Linked DNA regions of Homo sapiens: region 2 is linked to region 1. The links come from fine-mapping of genetic effects on gene expression. A gene starts in region 1. The other region holds a variant in brackets. All regions are shown on one strand. Distances are between the middles of the regions.

Region 1 (2,918 bases):
GATCATCTTTACTATGAACAAATCCAAAGATTTTTCAAAACGAACTGAGAAAAAAGTAGTTACATTTCTTTGTAGAAACTGTACTTTCAGAATATTAGGAACCAGAGGGGCTTTACTGAACTCCGAAAATTCTCATCTAAACTTTGATCCGTTGCAAGGCAAAATGAGTTTCATATTGAAATTAATTCAAACTTTTAAAAATAAAGGCATACAGCGCTTAAATAAAACTCAAAAGCTTTACAGGTTCAACGTTTTTTTTTAAGCCTTTTTAGAAAAAGAGAACCTTTTTTTTTTTCCTGGTTCTGCCTTACCTCAGCCAACAGAAAATACTTTGTTTCAATATAATTTGATATATTTCTGTTTTCCCACTAGCTTCTATTCTTGCAAATATTCATCATTGCCCTTGTTTTGTGATGAGGGAAAGTGAAATGGAGGGAGGAGAAAGGCAAAGATGTACAAAGGGTCAGAATTCAACTGCAGTGGGTAAACTCCTGAAAAATAAAGAAGACCCGACTTCCCCTTTCCTGTGACCAGAAGCAAGCCTCCACACCACCCATCTCAGCAAGTGCATTTTGGGAATAGATACACTTAATTTAATATTCAGAAATTACTTCCTTTCTTCTTGTTCTTCTACACTTTGCCCAAGACAGACTAAAACTTTATCCTAACCCCAGACACATTCTGCAAGATGCCACTGCTAGAATAAACTAAGATTTACAATACAATCACTTTAAGTGCCCCACAGCTAACATCAATCCTAATCCTTGAGAAGGCTAAAAATAAAGATTGGAGGGCAGCTCACAAGGTAGCCGTGATCAAATTAGGAGGCTGAGAGGACAGAGAGGGACGAAGAAGGAAGCTTATAAACATCTGATCCAGCTGACTGTGGCCATATGGCAGCTGCTGCCCAGATAAAGAGATTAAGAATAGAGGAGTGCGATTACAGCTGTCTGGCCAATTCAGGCAGCTCAAATCTACAAGTTCTAAATTAGTCGCTAACACAAAAACTCCTGCAAATAATTATTGTTATGCTGAAATAAAAGATCTCTTAAATATATATTTGAAAGAGAAATGAGGAAACCAGTCAAACTATTCTCCTGGGGACAAAAGTTTGGTTTTTTTTTCTTCTTCTTAAAAACCTGCAGTTTCAACAGCACTACAGCTGTATGTTTCAGTAGTGCTGCTCAATGTTTTGAAGAATAAAGTTTCACAGAGGAATTAATTATACAACAATCTAGCTGCTTAACTAGAATAATCTTCTCATATAAGTTTGAATGCTGGATTCCAGTTTACTATTTCCCCACCACCACCACCCCAATCAAATCTAAATAGCAGTGAACAACAAAAAAGCATTTTAATCCAACGTGATTTCCAAAAGCAGCATTTTAAAGCCTTTCTTAACATTTCAAAACTTGAAATATTTGTGTATTAAAGTTATTTACTCGCTCAAGTAAAAGGGATAAAAAATTAAAACTAAACAAGCTCAAGACTTTCAACTCCAGTAAGATGTTCATTTAATACTCAATTTCATATATTATTCCTAAACTGGGTTAGAAAAGTAATGTGATTTTTAAAATTAAATAAACAAAACACCAAAACAGAAATATGCTCAATCTAATCTCTTGCTACTCCTACCTTTAGGACACATAAACCTGATTAAGTCCTTTCCTCTGAGTCCTGCTGGCTCCAGGTCTGTTACATCGGTGGAAAAAAAGCAGACTAAGAGAGACAGATGCAAAGTGGAGATGATGTTAGAGAGGAATGAGATACCTTCTCCACCACAGATCCGCACACACTAACTCCCTGTCTGTGTGTTAGAATAAAAGGCTGAGGGATGGCAGGCTGTCAGCTGCTCTGACATCATGTTCAGATGGAAATGCTACCTCCAGCTGTGCTCCTTTTAATGCCATATGCTACTCCTCTACACTCCTGCCACCAGCTTTTTCTTAGGAGAACTTTTCTCTTCTGTTAGTATAAACAAAATACTTCAAAGTCTTCCTTTTTTTCCAAACTTTCTAACAGAAGAAATTGAAAAACTCAGCATATGGAGTTCTACTGTATTTATGGAATAGCAACACTTCTGTCTTAAGTTGGTGGACTGGCTTACATACTGACAGCACACTCAAGCCACGGTGCTATTCAGGAAATCCAGATTCACTTTTATTCAACTCCAACGTTTAGTTTCTAAAGCAGTTTAGGGATATTTTTAAACCAACCCATTTGACATCTCCAGTCCCATTTCAACATTATTACCGCACTTTTTTATTTTTTTCTGCTGAGATAATGGTATACATGTCTCAAATGTTGGCAGACTTGTTCAGAACTATTACTTCAGACTGGTTCACCTTATTATTTCACTCTTATGTAATTACTTATCTACAACTACCTTCTCAGAAAAATTTCTTACACTGCCACAGTCAATGCAAATTTCAATTCTCGGTACCAACAAGCTGAAACTGCACTTTCTGAAATCCTGGAAAGTACTTCAGTTCAACGAGACCAATTAATAAACTGATACAACCTGCTCCAGTCACTTAAAATGAATGCTGCACCTGCATATCTGATCTTTCTGCTCAGAAAAAGCAGAACCTTGCCTTCCCCTTGATCTGTGTCCCTTAACAATCTTTTTTTTCTTTGGGGGGGGGTCACTCTAATGTTTATGATCACAAGAAAATCTTTGTGTGGGGGGAAGCCAGGTCTAGTAAGTTTGAGAACTTTTCAGCCAGTTTGTGGGTCTTTTCTAATAGCTGATGAAACTGTAACGCGACCCGGGCTGGGCTGACCGGTACCGGGCAGGGTGCTGCGACATCTCTGAATGTCAAATACATCTCCTCAGACTCTTGGGAGGGCGAGGGGTAGAAAAGGAACTGGGGCCTGAGGCGCCAGCGTCCCAGCCCTGGTGATAACCACTTCGTTCC
Region 2 (2,918 bases), 180 kb before region 1:
ATGTTTGAACAAAAGTGCTAAAGGAAAAGGGGGAGGACATGGCTATGGAAAAACAGACCTTATACGGTATGTGCTAGTTTAGTTTTCTTTGCAAGAGAGTTGGGACAGAGGATTTCTCAGAGTCAAAGGAAATACTTTCGATGACCTCCTACCTTACTTTCCTTCTCCTTGGTATTTTATGTGATATTAGGAAATCAGAGAGGGCTTTATTCTCTATTAATCAGAGTATATCTTGGAAGATCAAGAAGATGTTCAATGCCCTTCTCACTATTCAATCACAAACTTCCACCAAGATAAAAAGATGAAAGTTACTTCTTACAGAGATGGATTTTTAATAGTGCTTTTTTTAAAAAAGTAAGTGCTCTTTGTAAGGAAAGGAACAGTCAAGTAATGCAGAAGAGAACAAGGAAGAAAGAAAAATGATCAGTCAAGATCTTATCCCGTGAAGAAGCTGCAGTAACATTTTTGCAAACATCTTTCAGGATACCTCTCAATATATACGCAACGTAGATGTGTGGATTCCCTTTCACCTACATGGGATAATATCATACAATTTATATAAACTGATTTCTTTGCTTGATACTATATTATGGGGGCATCTTTCTATGTGTGAATCTTTATTTTTTCTTTTTTTCTCTTTAGTAGCTTTTTTTTTTTTTTAAATAGAGAGAAGGTTTTGCCGTGTTGGCCAGGCTGGTCTCGAACTCCTGACCTCAGGTGACCCACTGGCCTTGGCCTCCCAAAGTGCAGGGATTACAGGCGTGAGTCACCGTGCCCAGCCCATTTTTAATAGCCTTTAATGGAACAGTAGTATGGCATTGTATGTGTGACCTAGTCAGTTTTCTATTGATAGATATTTAGGTTGTTTCCAACTTCTTGCTGTTAGATAAGGTTGGATGAGCAACTCCATGGGTGTGGCTTAGGAGGCTCTTGTCTCAGCTGAATCTTTAGTAATCTCTGGCATTCCCACTCAGGAAATCCCAAAGCACTAGTGGCCAATGGTCCCTGTCTCCATGCCTAGCCAGAAAACACTGTCTTCAAGGCCCCAGTTCTTCATGTCAATCAAATTGGTTCTATTCATGTGTGGGGAGGCAGACTTGTTTGCTTATTTTTGTTTTCCTAAAAAAATTCAGCAATGCTTTTATATCGTACTTGGCATCAATTATTTGCACCCCTCTAGAATCCATCCCTTCATTTTCTGATGATAACAATTCCTGAGGAATTACCCCTCTCCCATTGCATAGAGTCTTGGTGAACCTGGAAGTGGAGGTGGCGGGGCAGTCATTAAAACCCTGTGCGGTTGCCTGCAACAGCCAGCCTCCACTCCATTCCTTCCCTCTCCTGCCTCCTCCCTCACTGCACAGCCTCCAGGTCACAGGTTTGGAAGCTACTGGGGTTGGCAAGAAAGCAACTCATAAGACTGAGCCGTATTCAACAGAGAGACACCAGGAAACCTGGAGAAGTGGGTGTGTGTTATCTCGGGGACCTTAAATATTCCCTTTCCTTTGCTTTGGGGCACAAGAGGAACATAAGCATGAAATAACAAACTTCAATGCTATGTGGTTTTGTTCTTTAAAATGTCGTCTCTTTTTTTCCCATC[A/G]TTGAACTTGTCAGGGAGGCTTCTCTTGGCTAAACCCCACTGCGCTGGGTCAGAGCATGCCTCACTATTATTAACCTGTTCGACAGCTGAGGACGCTGAAGCACCCAGAAGCTACGTGACCCACCCAGGATCAGGTGGCAGCAGCCAAGCGTCCTGGGACTCGCACTCTAATGGCAGGCACTGCGCTTGGCTCGGGCTGAGCTGTCCTGGGGCACGCAGCAGCAGCAGCAGCAGCCAGGAAGCCCAGCTCCTGTTACAGGATGAGGTCTCAAGCTGGGGGCTGCTCTTCTTTCTCAGGTGTCAGTGTTAAAACAGCCACAGAAAGAGCTGTAGAAGAGCCCTTGGTGATTTTGCTTTGGAGGGTGTCTGGTCACAGAGTCTGCAGATAGGCGACGGCACTTTCATTATGTCTGTCACCATCGTGGGGGGATTAGGAGGCCCTAGGGTAGGGGACTGAATAGTTCACTGTGGCCCTCCACTGACAACACTAGGTACTGAAGGGTATCAGTTGTTCAACCTCAATTCTAGGGACAGAGGGGGTGGCGGCAGGAAGGAAATGCACCCTATTGAATGTCTACTCCCAGCCAGGCTTCGTTTGGGGTGCCTTCCTGTAGATTGTTTCATGGACTCCTCATGTCAACGCTGAGAGCTCAATCAACAACTTCAGCTTCTCTCCTCCTCTTCCTCCTCCTCCTTTGGGTTGACGAAATCAGATCATCAGAGCTGCTAAGCAGAAAGTAGCCATTATAATATGATGGAGACAGAATTTTAACTCATGGATGTTTTGGGTCCAAAGTTAAGCTTTTCCCTGTTACTATCCCGGCCCTCAGTAGCACCTCGGGACAGGCAGAGTTTTGCCCCGAATCCCTCTGGAGTGAGAAGCCTTTCTGGAAGGAGCACTGCCGAGTCTCATAGACCCCGGTCTATGTCATAGACCCCTAGACACTGGCTTCTGCTCCCATCTGATGGGTCATCTGAGCAGAACAATGTCAAAAGTTGGTGTTTTCTCTGAAACTCTGAGTCTCCCTCCAGACTGCGGTTGGCTCAGGGCACCATTTTGGCTGCAATCCCGCAGAGTTTCATTTTCACTTTTTTATTGAAAAATCGAGATCTGGGGAATTAGAGCCTTTCCATATTGATTTTCCAGGGGCAAGTGAAAATTACATTCTGTACAGGACCAAGAAAGTGCCACCTTTTGTGGCAACAGGGCTGACGGTGGTGATGACGTGCAGGAAGGGGGACGATGGGGCAAACAGACATAGTTTCCATGTAATTTTTTTTCAAAGTGAAAAGGTAAAAAAACTAATTTGGGTTCGTA

Direction of the effects. Positions count from the first base shown, and alleles are read on the strand shown. Sizes are in standard deviations (SD) of each study's normalised expression.
For the expression in skeletal muscle of the gene that starts at base 1,797 in region 1, allele A in region 2 goes with a higher level than allele G (small effect, 0.12 SD a copy in GTEx).

What was found. PIP is the estimated chance that this variant, and not a neighbour inherited with it, causes the effect.
Region 2: its variant is the best candidate, but not a certain one, in a credible set for the expression of ZBTB18 in skeletal muscle (GTEx, PIP 0.63).

Annotation. Positions count from the first base shown.
Region 1 is chr1:244,050,162-244,053,079 of GRCh38, reverse strand. ZBTB18 (zinc finger and BTB domain containing 18) reads right to left here and starts at 1,797. Exons shown (of 2, transcript NM_205768.3): 1 at 1,636-1,797. The coding sequence starts at 1,648. RefSeq lists enhancers at 521-1,022, 2,739-2,788 and a silencer at 2,469-2,558.
Region 2 is chr1:244,233,342-244,236,259 of GRCh38, reverse strand. All of the region lies in intron 2 of LOC105373262 (a long non-coding RNA gene), which reads left to right. Among named protein-coding and RNA genes, the nearest start is that of SPMIP3, 120 kb to the left of the region's middle. The variant A/G (reference allele first, on the strand shown) is at 1,601.